Linked DNA regions of Homo sapiens: region 1 is linked to region 2. The links come from fine-mapping of genetic effects on gene expression. A gene starts in region 2. The other region holds a variant in brackets. All regions are shown on one strand. Distances are between the middles of the regions. Region 1 overlaps OTOF (otoferlin). Region 2 holds the start of SELENOI (selenoprotein I).

The links.
Region 1: its variant is fine-mapped to the expression of SELENOI in spleen (GTEx, PIP 0.97).

Annotation. Positions count from the first base shown.
Region 1 is chr2:26,509,764-26,518,066 of GRCh38, forward strand. OTOF (otoferlin) reads right to left here. Exons shown (of 47, transcript NM_194248.3): 5 at 6,655-6,836. Among named protein-coding and RNA genes, the nearest start is that of OTOF, 45 kb to the right of the region's middle. RefSeq lists an enhancer at 1,586-2,509. The variant A/G (reference allele first, on the strand shown) is at 4,407.
Region 2 is chr2:26,341,592-26,350,162 of GRCh38, forward strand. It overlaps SELENOI (selenoprotein I), which reads left to right and starts at 4,552. Exons shown (of 10, transcript NM_033505.4): 1 at 4,552-4,698. The coding sequence starts at 4,642. ADGRF3 (adhesion G protein-coupled receptor F3) reads right to left here and starts at 5,198. Exons shown (of 14, transcript NM_001321971.2): 1 at 4,530-5,198. The coding sequence starts at 4,643. RefSeq lists enhancers at 4,017-4,156, 4,477-5,244, 5,357-5,456 and silencers at 4,367-4,596, 4,647-4,706, 4,767-4,816.

The sequences.
Region 1 (8,303 bases), 170 kb after region 2:
CTCTCATTGGTATGTTTGGAGAATTAGATTAAATTTAGATACAGTCAAGTTCTCTAAATTTCCTGGGTCTATGGTGAGCTCTGGGTCAGAAGTCAGCTTCCCTGTCTTCTGGTTCCAGCTCTGCCCCTGTTCTGAGACAGATTTGTCATCTGTAAGAGCAGGTGTTAACCAGAGGCCTCCTCCAGTATGGTCCACCTTGGCTACCACTGCCCTTATGAGATCCCGTAATGCTAGAGTCCTCCAGATGTCAGTGTGCTTCTAGGGGTGCCTACAAGACCCATTCACAACTCCCAGCCTTCGAATCTTTCCAGACCCTTGTGACCAGCCCCTCCCACCTGCAGGACCCTTCTCCTGTCCTCTCCAGACAGCACCCTGACCTCATTTTTCCAGGAAGCCTTTTGGGGAGATGAAGATAGAGAGGGCCGCCCAAATGGTGGCCTCTCCTAAGCTTTCTGGGGGTCTCCAACTCCACCCACGACCTGCAGCTGCAAAGGGTACCCAGAGTTCCTCCTCCTTATGCCTCCAGCTGCCTGGCCCTACCTCGCCCCTGTTGGGAGAGGGATCCCTGAGGTCCTCATGCCCCTCTCCCCTTAGCCTTTAGCTGTCCCCTCCCTCCCAGGGAAGCCCGAAGGCCACAGGATGGGGGCTGAACAGTGGAGGAGGAACAAGACACGGAGAGGAGGATGGTCACCCCCGAGAGCCCAGAGTGGAAACCAGAAGGTCTGGCCACCTCCCCCGCGACCCTAACCCCTCCTCATCCCTCACCCCCGTGGCCAGGTGAAAAGGCCTCCCTGGGCCTCCATGACCCGTGCCAGCTCTACCACGACAGCCCACTCCTGAGCCCTCTCAGCCGAGCCCATCCCGCCCTCCACAGCCTGTGGGGAGGAGGCCTCTGTCTCCCCAGAGACGCTGTTGCGTCTGCCCTCGCCTGGGACACCTACTTGTGCTCGTCATCTCTGCCTCCCTTGGTCTTCTCTCTGCCTTTGCTGAGTAGGGGGAAGAAATGAGGAGACAAGGGGACACGTGTGAGGGGCTGTGGACCAGAGACACTGGCCTCAGCCCCGGCCCCACGGGCCTGCACGCTCCCCGGGGGCCTCCTTGTCCCACAGACCTCTCACCCCACAGCTTCGCACGGTAGCAAGCCTAGGTCTGCAGAAAAGGGGTCCCATGGCCCTGGGTTCTGCCTTGGGGGAGATGGGAGGGGCCCACAGTGCTGGGCCTGGGTGGCCACTATTCCAACCCCAAGCTCTGATACCTCAGGGCCTCAGCTCATCGCCCCTACCAGGCTAAGATCTGATGATTCCACAATGTGGGTCGCAGCTTCCTCAGGGAACACAGGGTTAGATGAGCCTGGCCACCCTCCCGGCCTGGGCCACCCTGCTCCTCTGCCCACCGGCTCCCCTGCTCCCCTGCTCCCCTCCAATGGGGTGGGAGCTCCCAGGCTCTGGGGGCCTCTAGGGGAACAGTGGGCTAAGCCTGCTCTGTGAGGGTGAGGCAGGGCTGGGGGTCCTGCTATGGAGTGCACACGGGTGGTTGGGGGCAGTTCTAGGGGTGTAGGTGGGGCGGTAAGTGAGCTACCACTCCAGGGCTCAGAGCAGGGAAAAACGGCCCCCCTATCTCACTTTAGGGAGGCTTCCAGAAAACTTTTCTGGAATGTTCTCTCAATGCTTTCCCAGTGCTGTGGCAATGAGGATGAAGACAGGAAAGTGAATAACAATTAGCAAATTATTCCTCTCCTCACACCCTGTTCTGGCACAGGCCTTGCCCAGGTAGACTTGACTGCATATCCTGATGGCTCAAGACCTGAAGGCCTAGACACAGCACAGCTGCAGTCCAGCGCTGGCCAGCTAACCTTTACGTTGGGCAAGCAGGTCAGTCTGTAATTCAAAGGTGTTAACATCAGCCAGGCCTCGGCTGCCCACATCAGCTGAGACTACTAAGCGGAGAAGAGCTCACAGCATAGGAGGAGGAATGTGTCTCAAGCACAAAATCCCAGTGCGCCCGGCTGCCCCGGCTCATCTGAGCAGCTTTGGGAGCTGCTGCAACTCTGGGGCTCAGCCTGGAGAAGGAAGGCAGCAGAGGATTTTCTAGCTCTCTAGGGGCTGTGGAAACCGATTTAAAAACACTCTTGGGGTAAGGCTGCATGTACTGGCCCCACATGCACACACTTCTGCATGCCCACTCTCTGCCCCTCTGTCTCAGAGCCCCACCATGCACACGTGCCCCACTGCCCTCTGGCCCCAGCATAGGAGGAAGTTACCTGGCTTCTGCAGGCCTCCACTGGAGTGGAAGAATGATCAATAAGGAGAATGAGAAAAGTGGCTCCTGCCCCAAACTCCTCCCAGATGAGACCCAGCAGAGAGGAGACCAGCAGAAGAGGGTTTGGGCAGCAGAAGGAGGTGGGGGTCGTGGAGGGCAGGAGAGCCAGGCCAGGTGGAGAAAATGAGAAGAGGAGATAGTCGCAGAATACTGGGACTCAGGAGGAAAGGCTCAGGTCTCTACAGTTTAGCTGCAAGACTAAAGCTGGGATTTCTTTCTTTGTCCTCTCTAAGATGTGACTCCTAAAGACAGCATCAACAGCAGAGCCCAGAATCCAGAGTCCTCCCTGGTGTCATGCAGTGCATGTGAGTGTGTGCAAACACATGGGCACTTGTGTACACATGTGTGTGCATGTGAGTGTGGTCAGGGCCGAAGTCACTTTCTCTCCAGAGACTAGGGCAGGCATACGCTGCCATGCAAGGGTCTGGAACACTGATTTTGTGCTGCTGAGAGTGGAGCGCCCATGAGGTTAGGGATTCATTACATCTCTGCAACACTGAGAGCCTGGGGAGGTGAGGGGAACTTTGAGTAAATGAGCTCCCTATACCTGCCCCTGGGCCAGTAAGGCTCCTGTGTGGGCAGCTTCTGCAGAGCCCTTGGTATAGGGTGGGGAGCAAGAGCTGAGAAGGTGCTTGGACAGCACCTGAACAAGAGGGTCAGGTGCTGCTCGGGGTAGAAGTTGACATCAGGGTAACATGGAGTCAGTGAAGAGGAAGGAAGTGAACACTGGCTGAGCACCTGCCACATGCCAGGCACAGGGGTGGATGACTCGCAGGTGCACCTCACTCAATCCTGGCACTTCTGTGAGGCATCCTTGAGCCCCATCTCACAAATGGGGAGGGGGGTTCCCAATAGCAGAGCTGTGAGTGGAGCCTGTGCTCTGTCACACAGCACAGCTTCCTGGCACATTACCGGGGGCATTGTGCAAAAAGCCGGCAGAAATCAGGGCTTCGTGGCAGGAACTAGAGAAGTGGGCAGAGTGGCTCAGAGGGCATGCGGCTGACCAGGGCCTAGGGGAGGTGGAATCGTTGGGGCAGAGAGTCAGTGGGCGGTGGGGTTGGTGGTCATTCAGGCAGAGCCCCCATACTGATTCCCTGAGGAGGAACGGGGTAACTTCATGGCAGATTCTTAGGGTCTTAGGAGTGAGTGTCACAGCAGCTGAGGCCTGAGGTCCACACTGCCCCTGCTTAGAACCATCTGACCCCCAGAGTGAGGACAGGATGAATGTGGGTGAAGTCCCAGAGAAGCAGGCCAGGCAGGGCAGGGCTGGGGGGTGGACCCAGGCCCTGGAGGGAGAGGTGAGGAGTGCCCAGAGGATCTCCTGGCATCAGCCTCCCCTCCATCCGTGGAAGATTCCAGCCTGGGCTGCCCGGGGCCTGTCTGGGCTGAGGCTGTTTCCTGCCCACTCAGTCTACCTCCCCGCAGCCCCCAGCAGGCCTTCATTTCACCCCATCAGCCAGGGAGCGGCTGATCCCCACGCCGGACCCTAACGGTCAAGATGGCCGGTGAGACACTGCTGCTTGCCAGCAACGGGATTTTCCTCTTGCTCATTGTGGCTAAAGCAGGAACAAGAGGGAACTGTGGTTATTGAATACCCTGATCTATAAGGGGATTGGCCTTCCCAGGAGAGGATGGAGGGCAGGGAGCAGATGCAGGGGAAGCCTGCCTGGGCTCCTAACGGGGTCAGAGGTGAGGCACTGACACCCCTTCCCCGGTGTTGTCCTCTTTAAGGAGTAGGTGTTTTCCTGATAAAAGGTTGGCCAAGTCCCTTCTGGAGAGCTCTCTGGCTTCCTCCCAGAACCCACACTATGTGACAAGGGTGAGATGCAACATCTAGGGCTGCGGGGCCAGCTTCCAGGTCCCCCTCCTCACCTCAGCACTCCTTGACCCAGAACTCAATGGCCCCATATGGGCAGCCAGGATTAAGCTACAGGAAAACCCCAAGTTCTTGAACCCGCTCCACCTTCTCCTCACCAGCAAATGGCCCATCTCTAGAATTTTTCTCAACCCCTCTTTTCCACAACCAGGCCTGCTGGCTGCATGGCTAGGCCTGGCGGGAGAAGGTGTAGCAGCGATGCCTGTCCCCA[A/G]TGTGCTCTCAAACCTGGGCTGGCAGCCCCAGTGGCAGCAGGGAAACTGTGCTCCTGCACACTGCCCCTGCAATGCAGGGTGGGGGTGCCTGGCTTCGGCTGTCACCCTCTCCCAATTCCCAGTCCGGGGTGAAGCCCCTCCTTTTGCTCCCGCTTCTTGCTGCTACCCTGGGAGGGGCCACACGAAGATGGGGAGAGGTGGGGAAGCCACCAGGCTGTGAGGAAGGGTCGGGGGAGCCCTCTTATCTCCAGATTCCTGGTGCCTAGGGCTCTCTGGGACTCTAAGCTCTCCAGAGCCCCCATCAGCACCCTGGCCCACTCTCTTAGGACTGAGTGAGAAACTGGCTCTGTGTTGCTACGCCACCCCAGGGAGGTTGCCTTCGTGGCTGCTAAGGGCTCCCAGGATGTTGTTTCCCATGGATGTGACCCACAGGTCCGGAGCATCCATGGGTCCCTTAGGACCTCAGAGTTGGAGGGGAGCCAGATGTAACTTGCTGAACCCATTCCTGTCACTGACCTACAGGGGCTGGTGACATGCCCAGTGTCACTCAGCCAATGAGTGGCACAGTCAAGATGGGACTTAATGGGCCTTAGCTCTCCTGATTTGGGGTCAGCATTCCTTTCCCTGTGACTGATGGCCCTTGTGTGGCTTCCGATCTTGTTCTCTGGAAGCTCTTTCTTAGAGCCCGGCTTCTGGTTTCTGGACCAGCCCTGCCAACCTCTTTTCTGAATGGAGACAGTCGAGGAGGACCAGGTGGTGCCCACTGAGTCAGCATCCCTTCACTCCCCGTCTGAGCACTGCTCCTCTTCTCACAATTTCCAACCCGATTCCTGACTCTTTGCATTGTTGTGCTACAAGAAACCTGTTTGTCTGTCACCAGCCTGGACATGGGCAGCGCTCAGCACCTCCATTGCCACCTGTTCCTCTGTGATCCCTCCGGCTCTCCCAGCAGCAGGGCAGGGGGATTTCCTTGCTATGTCCTTCTTTGCAGGTGAGGAGAGAGGGTCAGAGACTTGCCAAGGGTCACACGACTAGTAAGAGGCAGAGCTAGGACTCAGGCCTGGGTTTTCTGCTAAAGAGCCAGGAGTCTGAGGGGACAGGCTTTAAGCTAGCCTGGGGCTGCCCCATGCCCGTGGCTGGCCTGGAGTAGACAGTCCCGCCATGTTTGTTGCAGGCCTGGTCACTTTGACCTTGTTACTATTACTCATCTGGCTCCCAGGGTTTCTGAAGCTTGTGTGTGTGTGTGTATGTGTATGTGCACACGTGTGCACTCATGCACCTGTGTGTGAGGGGTGCTTAAGGGGGTGTGAACTCATTCAAGTGCAAAGGAGAAAACATATTTGTCCCATAAAAGTATGTCAGTTCAATTACACTAATTTAGAACCTATGGTTTCTTCAGCAGAGGGACTGAGTAAACTTTACTTGGAAAGGAAAGCGTGGAAGGAGCTTACAGGGATATGTTTCCAGTGGCACGGAGGGTCCCTTCTCAAAACACACCCTGGTCCTTCAGATGCACCCTTGACTTACTGGCATTTAACACATAATTCCTAGTGACTTAGGAACCCATGGACAACATCTTACTAGACTAGCCCAGATTCTGTCCCCTTGGTCTCTAATAGTAATACAATTGCATTTTCTGTTTTGTAAAAATAGTGCACGTGGAATGAGCTGTCCTGGATCCAGCTTCCTGTGATCCATAGGTGGCAGGACACTTGCAGGGCGTGACGCTGGATTCTGGGGGTTCCCGGGTACCCTCCCTTCTCAAGAGGAAGAAAGGCCAGGGCCCAGCCAGGATCTTTGGCTTCACTCTGGCAGGAAGAGCTGCCCTCTCTTGGGCCTCCTCACTGGGCCAGGGTAGAGGTCAGGCTGCCGGCACCTGGTGGACACTGCTGGGTCTTGAACCAGAGAGGCCAGGGGCCCTCCTATCCCCAACTCCCCTTCTCTGAGAAAGGCAGGAGATCTAGCCCCATCCCTGTGTTAGAGCTCCACCTCCCTCAGGGCCACTGGGGAGGCCTTGGCCTTGCAGCTCCATCTGAGTCTCCTGCTCCCTGCCCAGTGACCTCGGGGGTGGACGGCTGGGTGGGGGGCTACAGAAACATCTTCCCACCCCTTGGATGTCTCTCCAGAAGCTCAGCCCTGTACTCTGAGCCCAGCTAGGCCTAGAGAGGCCTGTCAGTAGGACCAGGCCCCAGGTCTCTTCCCCGTGTCTTGGGAGCAGTGGGCAGCCAGAGGGGTCCTGCCTGTTACCTCCGGAAGCTCTTCTCTCCTGGGGGCCGGGAGCTGGGCCGGGAGCCTGGGAGCAGTCCATCCGTCTCTTGGCTGTCCTTCTCTTCCTCTTGAAGAGACTCATCTCCCAGGAAGTCCCCATCGTCCCAGGAGCCCACTGTGCCGTCAGTGGCCTGATACCGGACCTCCACGCACAGGCTGGTCTGAAGGGAGGGAGGCGGTGGTGAGCAGCTGGGATGGTGACAGCAATCTCCACCCCGTATATGTGGCTGCTTGGTGGTGTTTACACAGCGCTTCCACACCCTTGCCTCACTGGAGGAGGTCAGGATGGTATGATCCCCTCTGCCCCATTTTGCTGATGAGAAAACAGAGGCTCTGAAAGGCTGACTTGTGCAGACCGGGTCAGCTTACTGGTACCTGGCTCCAGGTCCCGCTGCTGGTGGTTCCACTCCTCCCTGGTGCTCAAGGTGGAGGGGCCTGGCCTGCCCAGGACAACTGAGCCTGGACTCACCCCCCGAGTCCACTGTCTACATAACCGAGAGTGTCGTTCAGCATCCCCATGATCAGGCCACCTCCTCTCCTCAGAACAAGGGCTGCCTGCAGGCATGAGGCGCGGCCCGCCAGAAATCGGCTTGTTGGAAATGGACAGAATGAGCTGAAAGTGGCCTCCGGGAGAGGAGCCCAGGGCCCAGGCTCACACTCACCCTTCCTACCCTGGAGAGGGAGGGAATCTTGGGAGCTGCCCTAGGGTTTTCCTCTGGCAAAAAGTAGAGCACTCAACCGGGCTCAGGCTTAGCAGTGGAGAGTCATGATTGGGCTTCCTGCTCTGCGTCCTGGAGCCATTACTTTCTTGCAGCTCTAGTTTCCCCCCCAGTGCACAGGGATCACCCTTCCTCACTGGTCTAGAGGTGACTTGGTCCTGTGCCCCAGACAGGCGGCCCTCACTCAGTGCTTGGATGCTCCAGCACCCAGGCTTAGATTTCCCAAGGGAAGGGAAAGGTGCACATATTTTCTGAATCCTCACTGTGCTAGGCATCATGCTAAGATGCTTTAATGTACACTCATTTGATCTTTTCAACATTGCAACCTACCTTACCTAGCATATCAGGAGGTTAAGTTACTTGCTTTAAGTCACACAGCTAGGAAGTACTGGAGCTGGGATCTGAGCCCAGGCTGCCTAACTCCAAGCCCCATGTCCTTTCTGGAACAAATGGGACCCTCTTGGTGGAACCAAGTATGTTGTTATGGGAAAATGGTGGTCTCTGGCATTGGAAGTCCTGGGTCTCCGTGCTGGCCCTGCTGTCAACTGTGGCCGAATCCATTCCCCATCCAGGACTTCATTGTTCCCATTCATAACAATGGGTAGCGGAGATGGGTGGCAAGTGGGCTAGGAGATCCGTGAGTCCTTTCCTCTGCTGACATCTTAAGTCTGATTCTGAAAATCCAGGGCATGGGCTGTGCTGTCTGTCCATCCCTGCTCACTCCCCAATTCTCTTATCTCACTTCCCACACTACACTCTTCATCCAGGTTTCTGTGTTCTCCTCCCAGCCCGCCTTCCCATGGGTGTCCATACATAGCTTATTCTGCACCCCTTCTCCCCTTGCTGTGGTGGCTGAGACCCCGGTAACTTTAAGAAGCCCTCCCTGCCACCCCTGCCCATGGGAGAAGA
Region 2 (8,571 bases):
TGTAAAATATAGCAAAAAACAGGCAAACAAAACCCCACTTGAGAAGATTTACTATAATAACTGGGGAGTTCCTTTTTGTTTTTTTTGGTAGAGACAGGGTCTCCCTATGTTGCCCAGGCTGGTCTTGAATTCCTGGGCTCAAGGGACCCTCCTTTCTCAGCCTTTCAGCATGCTGGAATTTGATTAAAAACTGACTTGTGAGCTGGGCGCGGTGGCTCACACCTGTAATCCCAGCGCTTTGGGAGGCTGAGGCGGGCAGATCACGAGGTCAGGAGATCGAGACCATCCTGGCCAACACGGTGAAACCCCGTCTCTACTAAAAATACAAAAAATTAGCCGGGCATGGTGGCAGGTGCCTGTAGTCCCAGCTACTTGGGAGGCTGAGGCAGGAGAATGGCGTGAACCCGGGAGGCGGAGATTGCAGTGAGCTGATATTGCGCCACTGCACTCCAGCCTAGGCGACAGAGCAAGACTCCATCTCAAAAAAAAAACAACTGACTTGTGATTTTTTTTTTTTAATATCTTACCATCAACTTGTAGAAGCATAGTGTAGTGGAAAATTATTCAACTAAAAGTCTGATGACCTGTGTTCCTCTTTCCTGGGTGACTTTTGGTAAGATATATTACTATTCTATTGTTCCACTCTATACAATTGGAACAGCCATCAGGCCCATGGCTCAGGATTGTTAGTCATGTGAAACTGCTTTGAGAACCAGAGTTTATGTGTATAAGGCATTCATTTTTATTTTAAAATGAGAACTAAATCAATACCTTTTTACAAACTTCTTTGGAAGACCCTGCCCATTTTTATGGCTTCAGTAACTTATATTGGAGTTATTAACTACATTAGTCCTTAATTAACCTCCAATATTTTTTGGCTGTCTCCATTTATCTGATACACTCTTATTCAGACTAAATAAAACAGGCACTCCAGGAACTTAAAACACTTTATTTTGGTTATATTATAAAAATAAAAATATTGTTTCTAGCACGAATTGATATTTTCTATGATTATTATTCTGGAAGGCAAAATGCCTGATCTTGAGTGTACAAGATGTAGAAGAAATAAACTTCAATGGATGAAGAGGCAGACATGGGAAACAAAGCAATAATAAACTACACTCAGGAATGTGGCGTGTAGAGCACAGATGGGAATAACAAGGCCAATCTAAAGCAGTCCGGGGCAGCTGGGCTGCCTTAGGGAAAAATGCCTCCTGGAATAAAATTTGGGAACGAGGAAACAGAAAGGTGACTTAGTTCCAAAGGCAAATTTGTTTCCATGACATTTTTCTCTTCCCACGTGACCATGCCTGCCGGGTTTAGGATTCACAGAATTCTGCGAAAATACAGTCATGCATCACTTAATGACAGGATATGCTCTGATAGTAAATACAAAAGCCAGTAAGACAGTTAGTTATTATCAAGTATTCAGTAGTGTACATAATTATATGTGCTATACTTTTAGATGACTGGCAGCGCGGTAGGTTTGTTTACACTAGCATTACCACGAACGTGAGTAATGCCTTGTGTTACAACATTTTGACAGCTAGGATGTCACTAGATGACAGAAATTTTTCAGCTCCACTATAATCTTAAGGGACCACATGTGGTCCCTCATTGACGGAAACATGGTTATATGGAGCATGACTAATATCTTAAATTTGTATGAATTTAATTGAACAGACTGGGGCCATATCATTGTAGGTAAGACAAGATTTCCCAGATGAGATGACTTAATCTCAGAGAAGTTATATGATATACAGTTTCACTGAATTTCAGAGATGAATAGGATCGTAGTACCTAATAGGTTCTAATGGATCGAATTAGATCTTAGGATCAAATGATCTTTTTTTTTTTTATTTTTTTGAGACAGAGCCTCGCTGTGTCACCCAGACTGGAGTGCAGTGGCGCGATCTCGGCTCACTGCAAGCTCCGCCTCCCGGGTTCACACCATTCTCCTGCCTCAGCCTTCCGAGTAGCTGGGACTACAGGTACCCGCCACCACGCCCGGCTAATTTTGTTTTTATATTTTTAGTAGAGACGGGGTTTCACCGTGTTAGCCAGGATGGTCTCGATCTCCTGACCTCGTGATCCGCCCGACTCGGCCTTCCAAAGTGCTGGGATTATAGGCGTGAGCCACGGCGCCCGGCCCAAATACCCTCTTTTTGAAAAAGAGTACTGGGGCTAAGTGAAGTAAGTTGTCTGAGATTACACAGCCAGTAACATGTCAAAGTATAAACCAATTTCTGGGTTATGCTTCAGCTTATAAATTATCAGATGAATTTATAATTGATTCAAACTTGTTACAACCTTATGCAGAGAAGCAGCAAATTGTAACTGCTTTCACAAAATTAAAAGTTACTGTTTTAAAAAGTGCTTTTAAAGAAAATATCAGAGGTAGAAAACAATTTTAAGAATCAATCATGTCATTTTGAGTTTGCTTATATCTGAACTGATAAACAATAAGTGCAGTTTATAAACTATTATTAGCTTGCACTGAAGTCACATTTTATGGCTTTCCACAATTAACTAAGTTTTACAAGTATGAAGGGTTTTTTTGGTTTTGTTTTTGAGACGGAGTCTTGCTCTGTCGCCCAGGCTGGAGCGCAGTGACACAATCTCGGTTCACCGTAACCCCACCTCCCAGGCTCAAGCGATTCTCCTGCCTCAATAACCTGAGTAGCTGGGACTACAGGCGCGTGCCACCACACCCGGTTAGTTTTTGTATTTTTAGTTGAGACGAGGTTTCACCATATTGTCCAGGCTGGTCTCAAACTCCTGATCGCAAGTAATCCCTCCACCTCAGGCTCCCAAAGTGTAGGGATTACAAGCGTGAGCCACCGCGCCTGGCCGAGACTCTCATTTCTAATGTTCTTCTCAAAACTGGTACTTCACAGCATATCAAAGAGATCTTTGCTCATTCATTCAATAAAATACGTTGATCATGTATTATTTGCAAGCCCCCTGGGTTATGGAACATGGGGAAAATTAAGATGTATAAGATGCAAATACTGCCCTCGAGGGCAAGTGTGATAAAGGACACTGAAGTTTATTGGTTGGCGGGCGCCCATTCTTCAAAAAATGCAAAAAATTTAGCCGGGTGTGGTGGTGTGCGCCTGTAGTTCTAGCTACTTGGGAGACGGAAGCAAGATCACCTGAGCCAGGGGAGGTCGAGGCTGCAGTGAGCCGTGATCACGTCACTGCATTCCAGCCTGGGTGAGTCAGTCCCTGTCTCAGGGGGCGGGGAGAAGCTTATTATCTACCATATACCAGGTATAAGATTATCTATTACTTTCTAAGAATCATGCTTTAGGAGGGGAGATTAGACATGTAGTAATAATACTGTGTTTGGCATATCTCGGGTCCCCAATAAATAGTTGTTAAACGAATGAACATAAAAGTATCTCAAAATAATCGCCCTTATTTCAGAGACCCAGAGAGACTGAAAGGCTCCCTGAAGTAGTGGTTTCCCATAACACAGAACTCATTTCATGTTGGGTCGATCATTTCCGAGCTTCGTAACTAAGTGACTCTGGGCAGGCTGCCTAATCTGAAAAAGGGGATAATGCCTTTCACTTCAGTGTTGTTATGGGGTTGATAATGTATGTGAAGTTCTCCCCACAGAAGGCGCTCAATAAAAAGCAGCAACTATTATAAAATTTTATTAGTAGATACTCACTAGCCATTGATCTAGTGTTTTTTGTTTGTTTGTTTGTTTTACAATTAACTGGGCTCCAGTTATGTAAAACACCTCTTGCAAACGCATTTAAGGACTCGTCGAGACTGAGAGATCACTGCTTTTATCTGGTCGGGAGACACCAGCAATCTTAATTTGGAACGGTTTGATAGAGCGGAGTGCGATGAGGCGGTCCAAGGTTCCTAAGCAACATAGACCTGAGGGGCTTGTCTCCAATGTCCTTTCACCTGTCTTTCAAGTCCCTCTGCTGACCGCACAAAGACTCCCGTGGCCCCGGCAGCAGCTCGGCCTTCTCTACATCTAACCACGTTTACTAAATTTCTACGGCACGCAGCGCACCGCACCAGGAGCTGGGAGCGGCTCGCGGTACAGACCTCCTTCCTCTTTTACTTCGCTGCAGCGGGAGAACTAAGTCCTCTTACCTGAGGCACTGCTGAACTGGTTCGCAAGCAGTCACTCTACCCCCAAGACTAAAACGGTATACCCCAGATCACCACGCAAGTGCGGATACCACAGAAATCCCACCTTCCCCCGGGACCGGGAGCAAAGCCCGCTGGGAAATTGACCTTTCACCCCCTCTCTTGCCTTACCTCAGCTCACCAATTTTGACGCTAGCAAATGAAGCGACGAAGAGAGCTGGAAGGCGGGACTTAGTGTTGCCTGATCCACGCCGATTGGACAACAGCAGTGTCGGGGGACGGGCCGCTCGAGCGGGCTAGCAACCCCCCCTCGATGGGCGGGGAGAAGCGTGGGCTGCGCTTGCGCACTGAGAGGCGGCCGAAGGGGCCGAGGCGGCTACGCGTGCGCGGTGGGCGGAGCGCGGCTCTCCTACCTTCTCGGGCAGCCCAGTCTTTGCCATCCTTGCCCAGCCGGTGTGGTGCTTGTGTGTCACAGCCTTGTAGCCGGGAGTCGCTGCCGAGTGGGCGCTCAGTTTTCGGGTCGTCATGGCTGGCTACGAATACGTGAGCCCGGAGCAGCTGGCTGGCTTTGATAAGTACAAGGTACCGCGGGCCGGCGGATGCCCCTCTCCCTGCTCCCGGCCTCGCCCAGGCGGCTGAGGGGCCCGCGCGGCGCGGTCCGTGTCACCTTGTGCCGCGTGGCTCCGGGCGGGCTGGCGGGCGTTCCTCCGGAGGTCCTGCGGGTCCTGGGGATTGGGGGTCGGGGAGCGTGGGAGCATCCTAAGCCCGCCGCCCGTAGTCGGCACCCCCCGGGAGATTTCCTTTTCCTTAGGAGAGCGCTCAGTGATCATGGAGCGAGGGAATTCCCTTCCTATTTTTTTTAAACTTATTATTTTCGTAAGCCCCCGAAAGGATGGAGTTCCTTCTGTTGTGTCAATCGCCTTCATTTTAGTGAAGTTTCCACTCGCCTGTCATGCATACAACTTCGGAGGAGGAGATGATCGTTTGGCAGATGAGGCCCGGGAGGGGAGCGACTTGCCGATGCCATCCTGCTGATGTCTCCACTTCTGCTCCCGGCAGGGACTTCCTAAGCGGCAGCTTGTGGCGCTAGGGCCACCAGATGAAAGGGAGGTGCACAGGAAGGAGCTGTGGAGTGGAAAGAGCGCGGGCTTTCGAGCACATACAAACCTGATTACAAAAGTCAGATTTCTTTATTTCGTCTTGGGCACGTCATTTTAACCCCGCTCAGCCTCTCTTTTGTGTATGAAACTGAAAGTAATAGCTTCTGCTGTGCAAAATGATTAGAGGAATTTGTGAAGCGCTTGGCAACATACTAGGACCCCAGTAAATAAATGCGGGTGGTTAACTTTCCTCCAAATCTGGTTCCCATCCGCAGTTCCTTTACCAATGAATGACTCTAACCATCCAGTCGACCAAGCCTGAAATATGGGCTTTAACCCTTCATCCTTGTTGTTACCCGTTCATCTTCACATCTTAGCTTAAATATTGCTTCCTCAAAGAAGCCCTCCCTACGTGCCCCTTTCCCCCTTAAATGTGCGCTCTGTTCGTTTATGGAATTGCTGCTTTAGCGTGTCTCGCCATTAGAATATAATGCCCAACTCATTAGAGTTTTCTTGTGGACCATCATGGCTTAAGCACAGTGCTATGTGCATACTAGGCACCCAGTAAGCATTTGTGGAATGAATGAATAACTGAAAAAGTCATAATGGATTTTGTTTAACTCGAGTTAAAAAAAAAAAAAGCAAGGGTCCTTAGAAGGTCACATAGCATGTTTCTCTGCTTTCAAGCCGTATTGTGCCATACCATTCTGAACCGAGGTGATGACTTGTCTTAACATTTTAAGTGGAAAGAGGGTCCAGAGCCTTCTTGGTAACTCGGGCCAGTGCTTTTCAACTTTCATTTTAGAAGGCTGTTAACCCAGATACCTCCTGTTTTGCCTTAAGCTCTACTCCCCTTTTGTTGTCTGTTCTGCAGGGTAAATATTGACATATAAAACATTTTCTTCCTTACTAGGGTCTGACTTTCTAAGTGCCAATAAAATAGCTATTTCAATGGGAGCAGTGTTTATAATAGGAAATCTCCTTTTTCTTATAAAGAATCTTCCCTAGATTTATATTTTCAACTAAATAAGTGTCTTAATTTACTAGAAGTTTCGTGTAATTTTCTGTTCTGATCTTTCCCCCTTTTTTATTATATAAGTTCCTGTATCTGACAGCAGATGACTTCCTATCATCCTGGAAAACAAAGGTCGATTTAGCAAGCGTCCAATGTTCACTAAAATAGTTTGTTGATATCATTTTAGTTATAATGAGGCTTCCTTGGGGAAAAAAAAGCACACATTTATAACCTAAATATTCTTCTATTGCAATTACTCAATACTGCATTTATATTAAAATTATGAATCCAGTGGTATCCAAAGGAAAAATCCATGGGATCAGTTTTGCTTGAACACAAATCTCACAGATCTTTTTTTCTTATCGTTGCGTTCCCCTTATGTTGTCTTCAGATAGTAAGCGCTTTATAAATGCTTATTTTAAAAAGTCTTTTTTCCCCATAAATGGGTAAAGATTGAAAACACTCAAAAGATATTTTGTATTCCCTCATGTGATGCTTTATAAGAGGGATGTAAAGAAGAACTGACACTACAAAAGCAGTTGGTGGAAAAATTACTTTTGAAGTAGTTTAATTTATCTTCCCTAGAGGTATATCTGAGAGCTACAGTTGGAAACCTGACAGATATACAGAATAACTGCTGAAAGGGGTGCACACGGGGAGTGGAAATTAGGTTTCTGAAGCAGGAAACTATAAGACAATTGATTTTTGGTATGGAAGAGCGTGGGATGGATTCTGTGTTATGTATTGACACTTGCATTCGCTATTGTGTTACTTAACGCAATTGTATTAAACAGTTAGTTGACTATTAGTTGAATGTCTACTTTCTCTTTTAGGACGTGAGCTTTAAGAGGGCAGGCCCTATGGCTGACTTTTTTTTTTTTTTCTTTAATAACATGACTGAGGTCTAGCACAGTACCATGAACAGAGTAAGTGCTAAACAAATATTGAAGGAATGAGAATGTAAAAGAATCAACCATTTTGGAAGTATGGTTAAAAAAAAAAAAGGAGCTCTATGTCTGGATATTGAAAGGGTGCTTTTGTATTTTAAATGTGAAGATATCAGGTTTAACTGCCATTGTTCTCTGTTGCTTATTAACTAAGGTAACTTCAGAGAATTATACTGAAGGATTTCAGCCTTATTTTTGCCTCTACCCATCCTTTGTTTTGGACAGGCTTTTTTTTTTTTTTTTTTTTTTTTTTTTTTTTTTTGGAGATGGAGGTTTGCTCTTGTTGCCCAGGCTGGAGTGCAATGGCGCGATCTCAGCTCACTGAAACCTCCGCCTCCTGCGTTCAAGCGATTCTCCTGTCTCAGCCTCCCGAGTAGCTGGGATTACAGGCATGCACCACCTCACCTGGCTAACTTTGTATTTTTAGTAGCGGTGCATTTCTCCATGTTGGTCAGGCTGGTCTCGAACTCCCAACCTCAGGTGATCCGCCCTGGCCTCCCAGAGTGCTGAGATTACAGGCATGAGCCACCACACTTGTCTTTTTTTTTTTTTTTGAGATGGAGTTTTGCTTTTGTCGCCCAGGCTGGAGTGCAGTGGCGCGATCTCAGCTCACTGCAGCCTCCGCCTCCCGGGTTCAAGCAGTTCTCCTGCCTCAGCCTCCTGAGTAGCTGGGATTACAGGCGCCTGCCACCATGCCCGGCTAATTTTTGTATTTTTCTTTGAGACAGGGTTTCACATGTTGGCCAGGCTGGTCTCGAACTCCTGACCTCAGGTGATCCACCCACCTCGGCCTCCCAAAGTGTTGGGATTAAAGGCGTGAGCCACCGTGCCCAGCCCTTGGACAGGTCTTTATAGTTGAGGGATTTTTCCCCACTTATCTAAGGGTGAAACTGCAAGTTGGTTTTTTTTTTTTTTTTTTTGTCCTGGTTTGCTCATCATTTGGGAAGGCAAAGTTTTAATTGATAGTGTAGCAGCTACTTTGAAATTGTATCATTTTGCCTAAGGGAGGAAATATTCTGTGAAATATCTTGTTTGGTTGGTTCGAGAAAGTTATTTGTCTGGGCACAGTGGCTCATGCCTGTAATCCCAACACTTCCGGAGGCTGAGGTGGGAGGATGGCTTGAGGATAGAAGTTGGGCAACATAGTGAGACCTCATCTCCACAAAAAAAAAAAAAAAAAAAAAAAAAAATTAGCCAGGCATGGTAGCACGTGCCTATGGTCCTAGCTACTTGGGAGGCTGAAGTGGGAGGATCAGTTGAGTCTGGAAGTTGAGCTGCAGTGAGCTATGATTGTGCCACTGTTTTGCAGCCTGAGCAACAGAGAAAGACCCTGACTCAAAAAAAAAAAGTGTGTGTGTATAAATATATATATAGTTTCATGATGAACTGGTTT